Regions from separate parts of the Homo sapiens genome. Here regions 1, 2 and 3 are each linked to region 4. The links come from fine-mapping of genetic effects on gene expression. A gene starts in region 4. Each other region holds a variant in brackets. All regions are shown on one strand. Distances are between the middles of the regions.

What was found. PIP is the estimated chance that this variant, and not a neighbour inherited with it, causes the effect.
Region 1: its variant is the best candidate, but not a certain one, in a credible set for the expression of MGAM in fetal neocortex (Walker 2019, PIP 0.76).
Region 2: its variant is the best candidate, but not a certain one, in a credible set for the expression of MGAM in blood mononuclear cells (TOPMed, PIP 0.89).
Region 3: its variant is the best candidate, but not a certain one, in a credible set for the expression of MGAM in whole blood (TOPMed, PIP 0.73).

What each region holds. Positions count from the first base shown.
Region 1 is chr7:141,756,166-141,761,345 of GRCh38, reverse strand. No RefSeq gene overlaps it. Among named protein-coding and RNA genes, the nearest start is that of TAS2R3, 5.3 kb to the left of the region's middle. The variant G/T (reference allele first, on the strand shown) is at 2,725.
Region 2 is chr7:142,095,480-142,099,479 of GRCh38, reverse strand. MGAM (maltase-glucoamylase) reads right to left here. Exons shown (of 71, transcript NM_001365693.1): 64 at 3,767-3,915; 65 at 3,065-3,149; 66 at 1,831-1,887. Among named protein-coding and RNA genes, the nearest start is that of MGAM2, 14 kb to the left of the region's middle. The variant G/A (reference allele first, on the strand shown) is at 2,391.
Region 3 is chr7:142,102,527-142,107,489 of GRCh38, reverse strand. It overlaps MGAM (maltase-glucoamylase), which reads right to left. Exons shown (of 71, transcript NM_001365693.1): 69 at 4,811-4,860; 70 at 4,051-4,221; 71 at 743-1,676. The coding sequence ends at 1,599. Among named protein-coding and RNA genes, the nearest start is that of MGAM2, 6.7 kb to the left of the region's middle. The variant A/G (reference allele first, on the strand shown) is at 3,392.
Region 4 is chr7:141,992,962-141,998,141 of GRCh38, reverse strand. It overlaps MGAM (maltase-glucoamylase), which reads right to left and starts at 2,263. Exons shown (of 71, transcript NM_001365693.1): 1 at 2,212-2,263. RefSeq lists an enhancer at 2,064-2,565.

The DNA of each region.
Region 1 (5,180 bases), 240 kb after region 4:
AATTACTATTTGTCAAATCAACTTGAATCCCAAACGCCCCTCAAGTCACCTCTCATCCCCATTCTTGCTAACCTTTCTAGGCTTATTAGAGCTTCCTAACTGCCTCTAGGCTTTCTCCTTCTAGCCCTTCACTCTGTCTTTGTTGTTCTCCTAACGCACAATTCTGATAAGATGTCCTTGTTTTCAAACCTTCTATTGCTCCCCATTGCCAAAGTTCTCTGAAAGCTTTCAAGGCCCTTTACTATCTAGCCCCAACCCACTTTCCATGCCTCACCTTTGTTTCATAAACTTTTGTTTCTGGATCTTTGCTCATGCTGTTTCCTCTGCTGAAAGCTCACCTATCCATTCTCTTCTAAGCTACTCCTCACACCCTATCACAGTTAGCTATAAAAGTTTCTGCTTATCCTCCCTAACCCCTCATAAGCTTAATTGTGAATTCCTTCAGTGCAGGAATCCTGTTATATACATCCCTACATTCAGGTCCTATATGGGTGCATGATATATAGAAGATGCCCAACTGAACCTTATATTTAAGAGAAGGAGAGCATAATGGTTTGGAAAATGTGCAGCCTGACCATGTGGTAGAAAAGAAAAACCAACTTTCTGAGGAGGAATTCAAGCTGGCTGAAGAAATTTGCATAAGTAACAAGGAGCCGAATGTTAATAGTCAAGACAATGGGGAAAATGTCTCTAGGGCATGTCAAAGACCTTCTTGGCAGCCCCTCCTATCACAGGCCCAGAGGTCTTGGAGAGAAAAATGGTTTCCTGGGCCAGACCCAGGGCCCAACTGCTCTGTGCAACCTCGGGACTTGGTTCCATGCATCCCAGTGGATCCAGCACCAGCCACGGCTAAAAGGAGCCCTCAAGGAGAACTTCTGCTATGGCAGTGTGGAAGGAAAATGTGGAGTTGTAGCCCCTGCACAGGGTCCCCACTGGGGCATTGCCTAGTGGAGCTGTGAGAAGGGGGCACCCATCCTCCAGACCCCAGAAAGGTAGATACACTGACAGCTTGCACCAAGTGCCTAGAAATGCTGCAGGCATTCAACACCAGCCCATGAAAGTGGACACAGGGGCTGTACCTTGCTGAGCCACAGGAACGCAGGGGCAGCTGCCCAAGACCAAGATTGTTGGAGCCCACCTCTTGCATCAGCATGCCCTGGGGTGGCCTACATGTGAGACGTGGAATCAAAGGAGATGATTTCAGAGCTTTAAGATTTAACGACTGCTCTGCCGGGTTTTCAGACCTGCATGAGGCCTGTAGCCCCTTTATTTTGGTCAATTTCTCCCATTTGGACTGGAAACATTTGCCCAATGCCTGTACCCTCATGGTATCTTAGAAGTAACTAATTTTATTTTACAGGCTCATAGGTGGAAGGGACTTGGCTTGTCTTAGATGAGACTTCGGACTTGGACTTTTGAGTTAATGCTGGAATGAGTTAAGACTTTGGGGGACTGTTGAGAAGGTATGATTGGTTTTTAAATGTGAAAAGGACATGAGATTTGGGAGGGGCTGGGGCAGGATGATATGGTTTGGTTATGTCCCCACCCAAATCTCATCTCAAATTGTAATCCCCACGTGTCAAGGTAGGGACCTGGTAGGTGACTGGATCATGGGGGTGGTTTCCCCTGTGCTGTTGTCCTGATAGTGAGGGAATTCTCCCCAGATCTGATGGTTTTAAAAGTAGCAGTTTCCCCTGTGCCCTCTCTCTCCTGCTGCCTTGTGAAGAAGGTGCCTGCTTCCCCTTCACCTTTTGCCACGACCATAAATTTCCTGAAGCCTCCCCAGCCATGCGGAACTGTGAGTTAATTAAACCTCTCGTTTATAAATTACCCAGTCTCACGTAGTATCTTCATAGCAGTGTGAAAACAGACAAATACAGTTGGTTGCGGGAATCTGTGGATACGGAGGGCCAGTGGAGAATGAATGCAAGTGGAGGCAGGCATTGGGCAGAAAGCAAAATGCAAACTTCACATACCTGAGTTCAACCTCCAGGTGTGCATCCTGGAAGATGCATGACTTTGACAAGTTATTTAACCTCTCCCAGTTTTGGGTTTCCTCACCTGTAAAATGGGATTATTGTACCTTCTTCTTAGGATAATGGCTAAATGAGACAATGATAAAAAGTACTTAGCTTAGCTCGGTACATAGTAACCAGAAGAGAAATGACAGTCATTAATATGATTATTGTTACATCTTTAAGAGATTTCCCTGTAATTCATTAACCTTGGACTTGCCTCTCATTTTCCACAACGATTTTCTTGCTGTTACTCCCACAAATCTTCACAGAATATTATGCAAACTCTAACAGAAAAATAGCAAGGTGATCCTGCCCTCATTTTCTTTTCAAGTCCCACCTAACCGAATGACAAACATTTATCAATCTCCATGTCACTGTGTGAGGCTGAGTTAGATTGGGGAAAAAGGGTGGTTTTAGTAAAAGAAAACCCTGCCTTCAAGAATTGCCATGATCTCATTAGGGAACAAAGGGAAAACAGCACTAATTTCTCCTAACTTGGCTGCAAAAGTTAGGCTGTAATCCACATTGCAATGACAAGTAATTCCTAAAGAAATGTATACTCTATTGCCAAAACTGCCACAGAAATATATCTTTGGTGTTTTTGGATCATCTTTGAATAAAATGTCCAGTGTGTTTTAAGAAATGATTGATTCTTTGAGAACTGTAAAGGCAGCAAACAGTAGATCTCATATAGGTTGGTTTTTTT[G/T]TTTGTTTGTTCGTTTTGTTTTTGAGATGGAGTCTGGCTCTGCCGCCCAGGCTGGAGTACAGTGGTGTGATCTCGGCTCACTGCAAGCTCCGCCTCCTGGGTTCATGCCATTCTCCCACCTCAGCCTCCCCAGTAGCTGGGACTACAGGCGCCCACCACCACACCCAGCTAATTTTTTGTATTTTCAGTAGAGACGGGGTTTCACCATGTTAGCCAGGATGGTCTCGATCTCCCGACCTCGTGATCCACCCGCCTTGGCCTCCCAAAGTGCTGGGATTACAGGCATGAGCCACTGCGCCTGGCTAGGTTGGTATTCAAAGTAAATCATTTTGGGCTGTGTACACGTATTAACAGATGAATGAATTATAAAAGCATGAGATGCTAAAATACAGATAGTGGGGGAAAATATATAAAAGATTTTCTCATTCATATCCAGTAAAGTGGTACTCACTAAAAGTGAATGAGTAAATTAGTCTGGCTCAGAAATAATGGAAAGGTTTTTTTCCCCAGATAAAAAGTTTTATTTTTTTATTATAAAAGTAATATATGTTCAATGCTAAAATATATATTTAAAAAACTGTAAAGAAACAAGGAAAATCACGCATAATCACCCTCTCTAGAGATAATAACATCCTCATGTTTCTCCCTCCAGACATTAAGCCTATCTTCATTACAACTTCTTTTTCAAAAATGGGATACCCCAGACATACTGTTTGAAACTTTTTCTCCCATTCTTCTAGGTATACTATTCATCTTACCATTTAACAGGAAACTCCAAATCGAGGTCACAGTGCAGTTTTCTGAGGTTTATTCCCTGACACTATCACATCAAAAAGGGAAATGCAAGACCCAAAACTTGGGTTAGAAGACCCCTAGTCTTTTACTGCTATTTACTGCTATCATATTTCCAAATGCGCTCTTCCTAGACCAGCTAGGGAGCAGGAGAAAGTTTCTCAGCAGATAGGGCTTCCCAGGGGTAGGCAAAGTTTCCCTAGCAAGTCTGACTGACTTGAGGCGAGAATCATTCTGCTAGAATCATACGCATGCTGAAGACTGCATGCTACACACCTAAGTCTGATAAAGCACCACTGCTTCAGCTCCACAGCCTTTCAGAGGCATGGAGAGAAGAGGCAACCTCCAGGGGAGAGTTTAAAGCAGAGCCCCTCGGCTCACAATGATCCAGCACAGCATCCTCTTCCACCCCTGCATTCAGGGCTGAGAAACTGCTCCAGGTTGGTAATTAAGCTCTTCTGTTCACCATGTCATTTTCCCAAAGCAGAGATTTATTACCCTGCTTAAACAGGACTGTTAATCTGCATAATTTCTCACAACACTTAAGGAGTATAAAAGCTGCTGTGCTGATAGAAGAAAGAGTTGCTAAAAAGATAAATTTTATATACTGCCCAATTTTGCTTAAGGAATGTGGCATGAAGGAATAAAGACTACATCACCAGGCAGTTTTAATGTGTGAACTTAAGAGAGCAGAGTTAATATGCTGATTAACTGTCCCAGCTGCAGGAAAAAGAAAGATGGCTGGCAGGAGAAAACAGCAATGAATTTTCTACTGTTCCTGAGCAAGGAGAGGATAAAGCTAAAAAATTCCATCTTTCCTCAACCAAAATGCATTGTAGGTATAAAAAAAGCTACTCAAGTGTGCAGAAAATACCTTAAAACAAAAAAGTCACAGACCTATAACATAGCTTGGGAATTCTGAACCTAATAAAGTCCAATATGACCTAAGCTACAGTTAGCACTGTACTCGTACTCTCAGGCAGAGAGGACAGAACATGTAGGCTGGGAAGCAAATATATAGGCTGGGTCAGAGGCCAAACTGGAGACAGAGTGGCCTAGACAGTACGAGAGACTTCTACCATTTGAACAAAACAACCTGCACAGTGGCAGCCAACCTCTGGGATACAGCAGCAAACTGGCAGGCAGACCTCGGGAGGGCTGATGTAAACTTTAAAGAGCAAAAGATGCACTGAAAAACTGAGTTACTATTTCATCTTTATTGGCAAATTATTAGTATTCTAAAATTTCCTGAATCTTGTAATAAAAAGTAAGATTACATGATGTACATAATGATTCATGTGGAAAAATAAAAGGAAAATGTAGGACCTAAGGCTCTAAGGGAGGCACTGACAGAGGTTGTTAAGAGGATCCTCTTCTACCTTCCCCAAGAGTTCTGAAGAAGACTCTAAAAGGATAGATAAGAGGGGCAGAGAAAGATAGAATAGAACCACAGCTCCTGTGGCATCACCTGGAGATGAACGATTTCATCTCTAGTTATATTTCAGGTCCTTATTGCTGGTAAACTATGTTTCATCAATGCTAGTAATGAAACTGTCCAAAAACAAAAGATATGAAGAAGGTAGGTTAGTCTTAAAGATGTTTAGGTTAGACACTAACCACTGCTCAGCAACCCCCTTCAATTTGAACTGAAGCTTAGAATCCCA
Region 2 (4,000 bases), 100 kb before region 4:
ACCCATTCTGCATTCACCCAGTGCTGCAAGAAATCTTGCAAGGCTGCTATAATATCTTGTTAGGGTCTCTTGCCTTTGCTTCCACTGTACAAACTACATTTGCCTGATGTGTGACAGGAAGAGGTGCTACTCTCTCACCTGTATCAGAACCTAAGGGACCATGCTTCCATCCTACATGTTCTCAACTAGAGCAGGGCTTTTCAGTCTCAGCACTATTGAGATTTGGGGCCAGACAATTCTCTGGCGATGGGGCTATCCTGTGCCTTTTGATATTTAGCAGAATCCTCGGATGTCAGCCGCATCACCTCCTCACCCCCACTCTGTTGTGACAACCAAAAATATCTCCAGGCATTGCCAAATGTCCCCTGGTAGGCAAAATCCTCTCATTTCAGAGCTGCTACTTTACAGGTAAGAAGCAGTTATTGTTGACAACAAGCGAACAAATATGCATGGCTGTGTTCCAATAAAACTTTATTTGCAAATCAGCTAACAACCAGATTTGGCTGTGGGCCATAGTTTTTGCCAGCTTGTGCTCTAGAATGAGTAATAGTTACCCAAACTTGGGAAGATTAATTAAGGTGACACTTCTTCATTAATATTAACTATGAAATTCATCTTCATTTTAATTAAACATCAAAATTTCATCTTTTTCTAAATAGCTTGCTCCATGATTTCTTTTGTCTTTTCCTCTTCAACCAAAGACATCTTCTGTTAGTGAATGGGAGACTCAACATGCACACTCAGGACAAAGGCCAGTCTCACGTAAAGAAAGCTGGCCACCTCTTCCTGGGAAACGCCTGGCTGGGACACACATAGCAGAGCCTTAACATGTTACCACCCTAAGGGCAGATCCAGACTAGCAGCAGGAAGAGGAGTCTGGGGCTGTGGAGAGGACTTGGGCTCCAATGGACTGAGAAGAGAAGGAACAAAATGCACATCCTTCTCCAGTTTTCACCTAATCTCACTGCAATCCCCTTGGATGAAAGGGGCCAGCACATGCTCTGCTTCCTGTATCCCTGCTTGTACCCCTTTGCTGTATTTCCAGCCCTCAACGATGTTCTCCTCAGAAAGTCAGAAGAGGCCCCATTAGAGACCAAGGAAATGCCTTCTTTGATTCTTCCCCAAGAATCAGGGTCTGACTTGTCAGGGTCCCAGCAAGAGCCCACCACCCCAGAGCTGCCCGGGAAGACCCTGGCTTCCCAGATAAGTCTTTGGGGAACATAATAGCACAGAAACTATGCGGCAAGGAGCTCTTCATTGCTTCCTCATTTCTAAATGCACTTGCACTGCTTAGACTCACAAGGGTTGGGTCCCATACCTCTGTGTGTGTTTTGCACATTGCCTAATCACTTGCTTACCTTAGGTAATTATGTGCAGTGCCCTTCTTTGAGCATCTATGCTATGGAAGGAGATATTTAATAAAAAGACAGAGACAAAAAGGCCTCTATGCTTACAAACTTACAGCAGGTAAAGATATAAACATTAAAAACAAAAACTATAGTTTGCAACACAATCTCAAAAGCATCTGCCTTTACAAAACATTGTAAATAGCAGTGATATAAGAAAATATTAAAAATTAACACAAAGAGAACACCCACGAAAAACCTGAGTGAGATGCTTTATGTGTCATTTCACAACAGTTCTATGAGGGAAGTGGTCTTACTCCACTTGGAGGTGAGAAAACCGAGGTTACAAGGGTTAAAGTGGCTTCTCTAAGACCACACAGCAGGTGGGTTACAGAGCCAGCATTTGACCTAAGGTCTATCAGATCTAAAGCCTTTGTACTCTCTACCATTTTCCCGTGTTGTATAAACATTCAGAAAAACTTACCGTGTAGTAATCATACCAGCGGGCTCTAGGGAAATATGCAGTGACATTTCTGGCATTCTAAAATGAAACATAAACAAGGTGTGGCAGTGGCACCATTTTCCAGGACAGAGAAACCAAAATACTTAGGAAAGAGGTTAAATAATTGTGATGGCCTTGGGCCCACTTGCCTCATGTCCCAGGAGGTCACCTATTGAGGAAACCTTCCATCCCTTTTCCTTTTTCAAACAGGAGAGATCTGTCTACCCCAAAACAAGTGGCTTTCATAAAGCACTTTGGTACCCAGGACTTCGGGAAAAAAAAAAATTCACTATTTGCTTATAGAAATAGGCTTACGCCATTCCCTCTTAAAGAGACAAACAACTGAGGTTGTGTCTGGGGCAGAAAAAAATTCTGTGGGTACCATAAGATTTGCGGGCTGGACACGGTGGCTCACGTCTGTCATCTCAGCACTTTGGGAGGCCGAGTCAGGCGGATCATGAGGTCAGGAGATCAAGACCATCCTGACTAACATGGTGGAATGCTGTTTCTACTAAAAATAAAAAAAAAAATTTAAATTGGCC[G/A]GGCCTGGTGGCACGTGCCTGTAGTCCTAGCTACTCGGCAGGTTGAGGCAGGAGAATCACTTGAACCTGGGAGGCAGAGGTTGCACTGAGCTGACATAGCACCACTGCACTCCAGCCTGGATGACAGAGTGAGACTCTGTCTCAAAAAAAAAAAAAAAAAGATTTTGGGAAGGTGCAATTAACTGGTATTTTAATCAGAAGCCTAATCAACAATAGAAGTAAAGAAATGGCTTTTACTGCTGGGAGGAGCTCCTGCAGAGGAAGGGAAGGGTTAGCCAGCAGCAATACAAGTACACACACATTGCCAAGCAATCCTTCTGAAAAGTTGTAATAGTGCTAGAGGACTGTTATGAATTCTTTACAATACTGCCCCCATCTGATCTTCTATTCCTTATTTTAGTTAACGAAGAAACGATTGTGTCATTGAATATACCATGAGGTGTTTTCTTCTTGATCATCCTATGAACCAGAATTGTTAGGCTCATTTTAAAGATGAAGGAGCTGAGGCCAAGAACACCTAAGTGATGGACTTCAGCTCAGAAAGAGAGGAAGAGACACAGGTAGAATAAGAAACCATGTCTTAGGACCCCCACCAGCTCAGGCCTCTTCTCCTCGTCCTTTTCCCCAAGCCTCACAGCTGGGATCCTCCCCTCATCGGAGGCCTCCATACTCACACGCTCCAGGACAGGGCTGACCAGGAAGGCTGGGCCCAGCAGGAACTGACTGTCTATGTCCCATGTCACCTGGTCTGACACAAACCTGGAAAGGGAAATGAAGGTGCCCAACAGAGCCCAACAGAGCCCCAGCCCGACACTCTGAAGAAGCTCCTCAAGTTCAGATCCAAGTCGGAAATACAGCTGCCCCTGAGCCATCCTTGCCTTTTTCCTAGGCCTAGCTTCATCAGGAGCACCCAGCCTCTGCTTTCCCCATGGGATGTGCCTCAAACTTCAGAAATGCTGGGATGTAGATGTATTCTCTCTTGTAAAATACTTGCCCCATTTCTCAACCATGGCAAACTTCAAATGCAAGGATGGCCCTTTTCCCTCAAATCTCTTCCTGAAATCCTTCTCCTGTGATCTGGCTACATATAACCAAACTGCTACAAAAGATAGATAGGCCTTTGCACAGCCAAATTAGAAAGAAATTATTCTATGCTATACTGCATCATTTCAGTTTTGCTCATTCAATCAATAACCTTTTATTAATGACCTAAGGCATGTATAGCACTGTGCTAAAGAGAGTAATAAAGTATGGTCTGCACCTGAAGAGCTCATGTCAAAAGGCAATCATGTCTTTAATTTGGAAGAATTCAACTGTCACCATATAGAATGCAATAAGTCATCCATTAGGCATTGGGATCCCTGCTGGACACTCACTCATGGAGCAGAGGCCGCACAACAGTGACGCCCTCCGTGTGGGCCTTATGCATCAAGGTATACAGATATGGCAACAGGGTGTATCTGGTCTGCAGGACAGTTCTGGAAATATTCACAAAAGCAACATCCCAGGACACAGGGTCTTGTCTCTAAAGGAGAAAGAGAACAGTGTTGGGAGCTTGCCCTGGAATTTCTAGGGGATTTAAGAAGGTCACTGAAAGCATACTCCAATTG
Region 3 (4,963 bases), 110 kb before region 4:
AACATATCCTTGATGGTAACATTAAATATTTTTTAAATATCAAGTAAATAACGTTTTCATCTTTGTGGCCTTCCTGAGTTTGTTAGAGGAAAGCTGACAAGTTTCCCACCTTTTTGATCAAAGGATTCCCATGGCTGCTTTTCCATATTTCACCAGTTTCCTAGTTAGCTCAGGCCCTCATCCAAATGCCCCGTATTGTGATAATTAGATGATTTAACAATATTGTTTGTCTCTAGCCTTATGCAGGTGCTGACACATGAGTGTGCAGGGAGAATGAATGGCTTCCTGGTTATAAGAAAAGAAGAAAACACAGAGAAGTAGGTTCATTCATTCCACACACATTCATTTTCAACTCATTTTCAGGTAACATCAAAAGTTAATATTCCTGTTGAACATTAATATATAATTTCCTTATCTCACATTTTAACCCTATAGAATTTTAAGCAAGAAGGTTGCAACTCCTATTTTTACTGGAGTTGGTATTTTCCTAAATATAGCAACTGCTATGATGATTAAAATAGTAATCAATAGACCCTTCCACAAACCCACATCTTATAAAAGACTCCTTGCAGAGATGTAAGAAAAAGGATAATTATAAAGGTTATCATCCTATTGGTGGATTTGGCTGTAGGTTCTGTGATGCCGAAGAGAACCAGAAAGACAAATTCATAAGAGTTTGCTAAACAAGAACCTTAACCCCAAACAGAGATTACTCATGGTCAAAATAGCACAAAATTCAAAATCACTTGCAAATTCACTTGTTTTATTTTTATCTGGCATATAAATTGCATATTTTTATGTGAAATGTGGTTGTATACATTAGAAATAAGATTTACACATTTCAAAGCACACTACTGCAAAAATAAATTATTTTTAACCTCCAAACTCTCTTTTGAGCTTTGCCTGCTCAGATCTCAATCTCACCAGTAGCCCTTTATGCTAAGGATTTCTCAAGACCCTCTTCTTCAAGTGAGTTGACTCTTCCTTTTTCCTCCCCATGAGGCTGCTGACAATTTTACATTATGTTCTTACTTAGGATCACTTTTACTATCATCTTCTGTTTCATCTGATCTTTCCTTGTGTTTGCCTTTTCTTTGCTTATCATGCTCCCCCCACCTATAACCAATTAGGTATATTATTCCTCCCACCGCCTATAACCAACTAGCAGATGTTCTTTCTGGATACTTTCTTGAGATGCTGATTAGCTTCAAGACCTGGAACTGTCACAGAAAGCTTTCTCTTGTGTATTTAACAAAAGAATGGGGTCCATTCTATGATTACAAACGTGGACATACACACACTTCATCATGGACCCAGTTCATCTTCAGTAAATGTCATATGATGAACAGTCACTACCATACTAACCACACAGAGACATTAAGGTAATGCATAGATTTTCCACACCTCCCTAACTGCCTATCCCACAGGGCTAAGGTTTAACCTTTAGGGTTCACACAAAAAACATATAACAAAATTAACAGAAATATTTCACCAATAGTGGGTATGAACAAATTAGCAACACACAATAATTTTTATGAGTATGAAGTATAAGTAGTTTCAAAGTCATTCATAGTTAGTTAGAATCTTGCTGTAAAAATTCACAGAGTGCTTATCCACGTCAATGAAGTAAAATTATGTAGGCTGATGTTTCTGTCAGTCACATCGATGCTTAATACCTGTTAGGAACCAAAGGAAAAGAATTGGGCATCCGGTGTTGAAATTTCCTGCATGCAAATAAATCAGGTGCAAGTATCCAGTCCAAATAACCCCCTAATACTTCTACATTGTATTGTCTAGTTAAAAGACTGCCTTCAAAGTTTCAGATGAGAAGGGTGTTTTCTAATTTTTTAGAGTACAAAGATTATTCAGTGGTAGAGATGGGCCTTTAAATAATTCAATATGGGCCGGGTGCGGTGGCTCACGCCGGTAATCCCAACACTCCGGGAGGCCCAGGTGGGTGGATCATTTGAGGTCAGGAGTTTGAGACCAGCCTGGCCAACATGGTGAAACCCCAGCTCTAATAAAAATACAAAAATTAGCCAGGCGTGGTGGCAGGTGCCTGTAATCCCAGCTACTAGGGAGGCTAAGCCAGGAGAATCACTTGAACTTGGGAGGCGGAGACTGCAGTGAGCTAAGATTGCACCAGTGTACTTCAGCCTAGGCAACAGAGTGAGACTCAGTCAAAAAAAAAAAAAATGTTCAATATGCAACCGCTGAAGAGAAACAACTGCACAAACTGGAGAGAATGCCCTCTTTTCCATTCTACTGAGGTGTTGATTTTCCTTGGCACCATCCTTCTGTTTCCTCCTTCTCCTATTCCACTATAGCACCCCAGTGTTTGCCCAGCAAGAGTCCACTATTCCTGCTTCTTCCTAGGCAGATGCTGTCAAGAAGCTTTCACTGCATGTGCCCTCATCAGCTTGCATGTCTGTCCCTGAGCTGGTCAGCAACAGGATTGGGCAAAGTCCTTTATGGTATAGTTGGGGAAGTTGTTGACAAGAAAACCACAAGTATGAGGAAATAACTGTAAAGAATGCAAAACTGAAAGAAAACTTTTGTTTCAGGCTTAATCATCAGGAAGGATTATGAAAGAAAAAAGTTCAGGAAAAAAAATAATAAGTAAGCACACAAGGAAGAAAGTTTCATTTACCATCGGGATGATAAGTGTCAGGACCACTACACAGCATTAATCCCAAGGTACAGATTTTTCACATATTTAACATTCATCTGACAAGAGCGTGTCTTGTAATCGACAACCATAGAATTACTGTGAGCCAAGCAGCACTCATGGCATAATTGTTATTGTCTGTGCCTGTGTAAGCTTCATTGCTATTACTGTGTTATGAATGGATGGGCTGAAAACATTTAAGGATTATTACAGGAAGGAATATTTAGTAAGATCAAGAAAGCACTAGGATGAAAATGTATATAAAGTGTGTTAGTGGCTCAGGAAAAAAACTTCATAGACACTAGTGGAAGAATTTTTATAAAATGCTGAATCACCAACACCTTTTGCAGTACAGAGGAAATATCTTAACCAATTTGTAACACATATTTTTCTTCTAAATAATAATAAATACAATAAACTAAATAATAAAACAGTTTAATATGAATTTAAATAGTACAATTTAAATACGATACAAGTTGGTTAAGCTATTTCTAGTGCTTCTTCACATTTAGGGTCTACCTCTTTTAAATTACGTTGAGGCAGAATCATCAATGTATCTCCACTCAACATTTTCCTCCATATTATCACTTACAATATTGAAATATATAGGTAAAACTTTATGGCTAAAGAAGTTTCAAAAACTTTCTATAAGTTTATTATAAAAATCTGAGGCTGGGCACAGTGGCTCACGCCTGTAATCTCAGCACTTTGGGAGGCCAAGGC[A/G]GGCGGATCACAGGGTCAGGAGATCGAGACCATCCTGGCTAACACAGTGAAAACCTGTCTCTACTAAAAATACAAAAAATTAGCCGGGCATAGTGGCAGACGCCTGCAGTCACAGCTACTTGGGAGGCAGAAGAATGGCATGAACCTGGGAGGCAGAGCTTGCAGTGAGCTGAGATCACATGCCACTGCACTCCAGCCTGGGCAACAGAGTGAGACTCCGTCTCAAAAAAAAAAAAAAAATTGAGTGATAAGGAAGCATTCTATCATAGTTTTGTCATCCTTTTTTCTTTCTTTGTGGCACATGAAATAATGAAGCAATTTTCACTGATGGTATCATATTTGATAAAATATGATAGTTCCAACCTGTTTGGGAAGTTGATCTCTGAGGCAGAGGTGAGGGAGTCAAGACAAAGTTTTACATAGGTTTGCAGACAAGAAGACAAACATGGAAAGTAAGAATCCAGGCCATGGATTCCAAATGATGATAAACCATGATTTTTCATTCATCTCCACGTGGTCCATTCCTAACACATGGAAAACTCAGGGATTCCCGGAGGGCCTGGCAGGAGAGGGCATCATTTGGAAGGGAAGCAGTCAGGCACTGCACTAGGCATATTAAGGGTGGAGAATACCATTCGCACTTTTTGCTGGTCACAAACCTGTGTCGTGGGGTCATTGTTGAAGGAGGGTGTTATGACCATGCCACTCACAGAGATGCTGACACTGGTAACGGGGACACTGCCCACTCCCCAGATTTCAATGTAGCCCAGTTTCAAAGGATTTGTACCAGTGATGTAATTGTTGAAAATTATATGGCTTTGCATCGTATTCTGTTGAATTGGAGATAAAAGAAAAATATAATAGCAGAATTAGTTCAAATTTTTCTAACCTCTTTTTAGGCACAAATGTAGGTCATAAAGTAAGACAACTTCAGAGTCACCATCTTGTAACTTTGGATCATGGAAATCATGATTTCATCACTCTATGGCCTATTGCCAACTCCCATCCACTTTGCATTGACAAGCAGCTACAGGGTCTTTCGCACTGCCCTGAACTCTACAGGAGACAAAAAGTCTCAGCTGTTAAGATACTTATATTCTACAGGTGGAGGAATCCCAAAATGTGCAGACCATTCCAAGGCAACTCAGGAACAAGGGCTAGATAACAGAAACTGCCCGTCCACCTGTAACATGGTAAACTAGAATAATGATCATTACTGATGAGATGTGGATAGGTTTAATTGCAGAAAGCCTCCTGGGAGCATAGTAAATTTCCACCGGAAGTCTAGAGAAGTAGAAGAATGTGAATTAGCAAGATGAGCAATGAAGAAATTCTAGGTGGTATTTTATGCCCTTACGATATTCAGCACCCTCCTAAGCCAGTGGAACCCTATTCTCACTTCATATCAATCACACTCACCTGGCTGGCAGAAAAGCTGGCCAAGTAATAGAGTCCTTTCCCATAGGTATCTGCAAACAAAAAACAAGATAAACATGGCCTGGACCTGTGCTGTAGAACTCTATGCTATAGAATATATAAATGCTGTTCTAATTGCCTACTTGTCTTGTTTGA
Region 4 (5,180 bases):
TTATAGTTCTTTAGGCAAAGTAGACAAACCACATGGGGGCCCAAATTATTAAAATGGCTATCTAAATTAATTTGGAAAAACTGGATATTTGTCCTCTTTCCGGCATTATAGCCAGCGTTTGATGTGTATATGGAGGTCTAAGCCATTCTTTTAAAATCCTTTGCTAACACAAGACATGAGATCTAGTGGAAAAGAGGATTCATTGTGGATAGATAGACTAAGAACAACTTGCAAAGAGGACCCCAGTGAGCCATAGCTATTCATCAAAAATGCTGGGCGATATTAGTAGGTTGGGCCATCCTTTCCCAGCTGCTTGGTGAATGGGAAGGGATAAGGTAGCTAATGAATGGCTTTTTTCTTCCAAGTCTGGTCACACCCAAGGTGAGAGATTTAAGAGTCAGCTCTGACCCTAGCCAGCTGTATGACCTTGGAAAAATCCACTTAACCCCTCTGGGTCTCAGTTTCCCCATCTGAACTGCAAAAGGATCATCTCTAGGAGACAGCTAACTCCTCCTTGAGCCCAGCAACAGGGTGTGCAAAGGCTTATATTTCTCATCACATTCCACAGCTGCCACCTGAACAAATTTTAAATGGAAAATTTCTTTTCTAGTTCCATTCCATGCTTATAGAACAATTTTTATAGTAATTTTATTAGCTCATTAAAATGTATTTGTGAGGGAATGCCTGATAATAAAAAATAATCATTGGCATCTTGTGAGAGTGTGACTGAAATAGCAACAAGCTGTCTTAAATTTAGTGTCCCACTTCATTTGGTCCCTGGTAGCACAGGGACCTACCAGCACAACAAACCAAAGACCCCCTCCATCTCACCCCCTCTTTGCACACCTACAGACATACACTTACTGTCCCACACCAGGACACAGACTGTAGACAGTTTGGACATTGGGAGGTCTTCCTCGCCCAGCAAAGCCACTGATCAGATCCTGCATGAAGAACCTAGTGGTATCCTTTTTCAGGGAGACCCATGGGGATTAGTCTCAATTTCTCTCTCTTTCCCCAAGAGTAACTCTCCCTTCCCACCTCTGTAACCAGTCAGAAAAGAAATGCCTGCGTGTGTCTAGCTAGACTGGCAACTAGTAAGGATCCAACTTTTTTTAAGTTTTATTTTAAGTTTTATTTTAAGTTTATTTTAAGTATTTTATTTTAAGTTTTTAAGTTTAAGGGCCAACAACAATTTATCACCTTCTCCTCTTCCCACGAGCACTCCCATTCTACTCCACACATGACTGCCAGGACAGATACCCTACCTTTCTCTTTATGACCTCCTCCCACATTCCACAGGAAACCTCTCCTACCCACCAATGCACACCAACTCATAAATGCATCCCAATATTTTACACACATCCTCAGACTATCCCCTAAAATTATTCTGTATTTAATCAACAGAGGCACCAAACCCATAAGCATAGTGATATATTTCTCAATTTTCTGATTATAATTGGTTCTTCAGTTACATTTTCTCAATCACAACTCCAAATCCTTTCAGAGGGAAAATGCTCTAATCTCACTCCCAAATTCTAACTCCTTTTATTCATTTCTCTCACTTCATTTCCAGAATCTGAAAGAATTTCTGCCTGCTACCTCAACCTAAGTATTAAATAATTCATCACACCTCACACAGAAACACACACAAACACACAGGTTTCACTACAATCAGGCTTATAGATCCAGCCTTAGTTCAGAAAAATATACACACACTAAGAAAAAAAGATAAATGAGAATTTTGTTCCATGTGTATGCATGTGCATAATTTTTGATTTATTATTGGTGTTGTTTATCTTTGTGTTTAACAAATTAACAAGGGCTTTTTTTTTTTTTTTGAGACGGAGTATCGCTCTACGACCCAGGCTGGAGTGCAGTGGCGTGATCTCGGCTCACTGCAAGCTCTACCTCCCAGGTTCACGCCATTCTCCTGCCTTAGCCTCTCCGAGTAGCTGGGACTACAGGCGCCCGCCACCATGCCCGGCTAATTTTTTGTATTTTTTTAGTAGAGATGGGGTTTCACCATGGTCTCGATCTCCTGATCTCGTGATCCACCCGCCTCGGCCTCCCAAAGTGCTGGGATTACAAGTGTGAGCCACTGCACCCGGCCAACAAGGGCATTTTGACTAAAAGAGATCAACTCAAATTCACACACACTTGTAGACACACATCTGTAACCGTAAAAGAATACAAGGTTCACAAACATACCTCATTACCTCTTGCAGCCGCTCCCTCTCTGTCTGAAGGATGGCTTAGCAATAAAAGCAGAGGAGCACAGTCCACCAAAGCAACCAAAGATCTGGTAACTATTTACCGACCTATCAAGAAAATGTTAATGGCTTTCAAATGCAAATGAATGGCCAGCTTTTATTTCCAGGATCAGAATTTTTAGTTAATTAGTAATCGTGGTCTTGCTCTAAGAAGGACATCCTTAAGACTTTTGGAAGGAAAAGCCAGCTCCCATGACCCACTCCATCCCCTCCAGGCACTGAATGTTTAATCGGTGGTGAGGACACCCTGTATGTCTGGTAAGAGAACACAGACACAATTTGTAGATGATAAAGAGCAAAAAATAAATGACCCCAGTATTCCAAAAGAGCCCTGGTCTCTTGCACTGACTCCGAATCTCTCAGGAACTCACTGACGTTTAGTAGCACAATCTGATGATTGTGATGGAAGGAAGTTGTTTTAAAAATGTTTTAAAAATAGTTTTCTTCTTTCTTCTTTAAGGTGTCCTTAAGCTTGTTTGCAGTATGGAAATCCTTTAACAGTCTGGTGACTCTTGAACTGCCTTTGCAGAACTATAAATAAGAGAAATCTAACAAGACTGACTCCATCTTGCTTCTAACCTCCCAGGCTAAATTATGTTTTCTAGGGGATTTTTTTTTTTTTTGGTTGGCTTTTTGCTTATTCTAGTACAAAGGCCAAGAAACCTATGAGAGGGATTTAGTTTATAGTTAAACTTGGAGTCAAGGGAAAATGATCCCCCTCCTTGCCTGGAGCTTAAAGGCGCATTCATAAGGCAAGGTTGGAATTATGGTAGGGGCTTAGACTTTGCTAAAGAATAGGCATAAACAATGTCCTGCCATGGCTTAGTTTGTTTTTCTATAAGTTGCTTACTGCCCCAGTCACACAACCAGTGTCACAAAATTCATAACTTCCCCAACTACCAAAGATAACATCACTGTATTGGTCTGTTTTCACACTTCTATAAAGACATGCCTGAGACTGGGTAATTTATAAAGAAAAGAGGTTTCGTTGACTCAGTTCCGCAAGGGTGGGAAGGCCTCAGGAAACAATCATGGTGGAAGGGGAAGCAGGGACTTCTTAACATGGCGGCAGGCCAGAGAGAGTGAGCAAGAGCAGGGAAAACTGCTTTGCAAAACCATCAGATCTCATGAGAACTCACCCACTATCATGAGAACAGCATAGGGGGATCCGCCCCCATGATCCAATCACATCCCACCTGGTCCCTCCCTTGACACATGGGGATTATGGGGATTACAATTCAAGATAAGATTTGGGTTCTGACACAAAGCCTAACCATATCAATCACTATTGTGAAACCTAAATAACTGGTCTTTTAGATATTTGTTAGCATTTCAGTAGACCAACAGACACCACCTAGTCTTGAGGCCAACACACACACCCCTCCTGGGAACTGACTCAGTTGCACAAAGACAGTTTTAGGTGCTCCTGTGATTTCATTCCCTGCCAATCAATTATACAAGTTCCCCAGCCCCATGCCCACCAAAGTACCCTTTACAAACCTTAGCCTTTGAATCCTGAGGGAGAGGGGATTGAGAAGTTTTTGCCTGCTCTTGTTTGGCCAACACTGTGATTATTCAACTCTTTATTTACTGCAATGCCTGCTGTTCTCATTGATCTTTTTGGAGGGCAGTGGGCAAGAAGAACTTATGGAGCTGAGACATGCTTATAAACCCCTCTTAGAATTAATTCTTAGGCCAGGTGCAGTGGCTCACGCCTGTAATCCCAGCACTTTGGGAGGCTGAGGTGGACAGATCACCTGAGGCCAGGAGTTCAAGACCAGCCTGGCCAACATGGTGAAACCGCGTCTCTACTAAAAGTACGAAAATTAGCCGGGCATGGCGGTGCGTGCCTGTAATCCCAGCTACTCATGAGGCTGCGGCAAGAGAATCACTTGAACCCAGGAGGCGGAGGTTGTAGTGAGCTGAGATACAAAGAAAATCAATTACATTGAAACACAGTTACTATAATATTTTTTAAATTATAGTTTGTGCCTCTTTAATGACATACTAACAATAAAGCGATATGTCTAATAGCGATTGCAATTTCAAAAACATGATAAGCGTAAACAATATCTTGAGATTGTTTTAAATATATGATGTGAAAGTAACTGTGACCTCTCTTGAAACCAAATTCATAGGTACTACTAACACCACTGTAGTTTGCAGCCTAACTCTAAATTTCAATTAGAATTTAGCAAAGAAAAGATATGTAAATATTTTCCCCCTCCAAGTTCACAGGCTTTCAGAATTATATCTACAAACCCCAGGTTAAGAACTTTGCTCTGTTACTAAGTGGACCTTCCTCCAAGTGGGGCAGAGTTCCCCGCTCTGTGATACTCCAAGAGTTATCTGTGAACCTGTGGTTGCCAGCTTCCAGAAAAATAAGCACAGAAATTGAAGGTAAGTGTTGAGAGACTTGCATTACAATTTGACAGAATCATTTCATGTCATTGATCTTGATAATTAAAAAATGGAGCTTGTATCTGTATATGCTTTTTTAAAATTTATTTTTCAAGTAATTTAGTTTTAATTTTACAAAAGCCACAGTCTGTGATATATTGGACAATTTTAAAACAATTGCTGTTTTACCACACATAGTTTAAAAAGTCCTGCTCAGCTACTGCTATTTCTAGGCATTTGTCTTTATGGGCTAGTGAAAATTCAGAAAAAAATCTGGGCCAAGAGACCTAAATTTATAAACCATGTATATCATCTGGAAAATACAAACAAAAATCACTATCTCTTATCACAGTCGTTTCACAGTAGACATAGACAGATAATCAAAATTGAATCAATTTATCTCTTTGAAAGTTTACTTCCTTATCCTTACTTTTCTGATTTCATGAACCATCAGTGAACAACAACCACCGTGGTAACACTGACTTACCGTGTTTCTTTGGCATCATA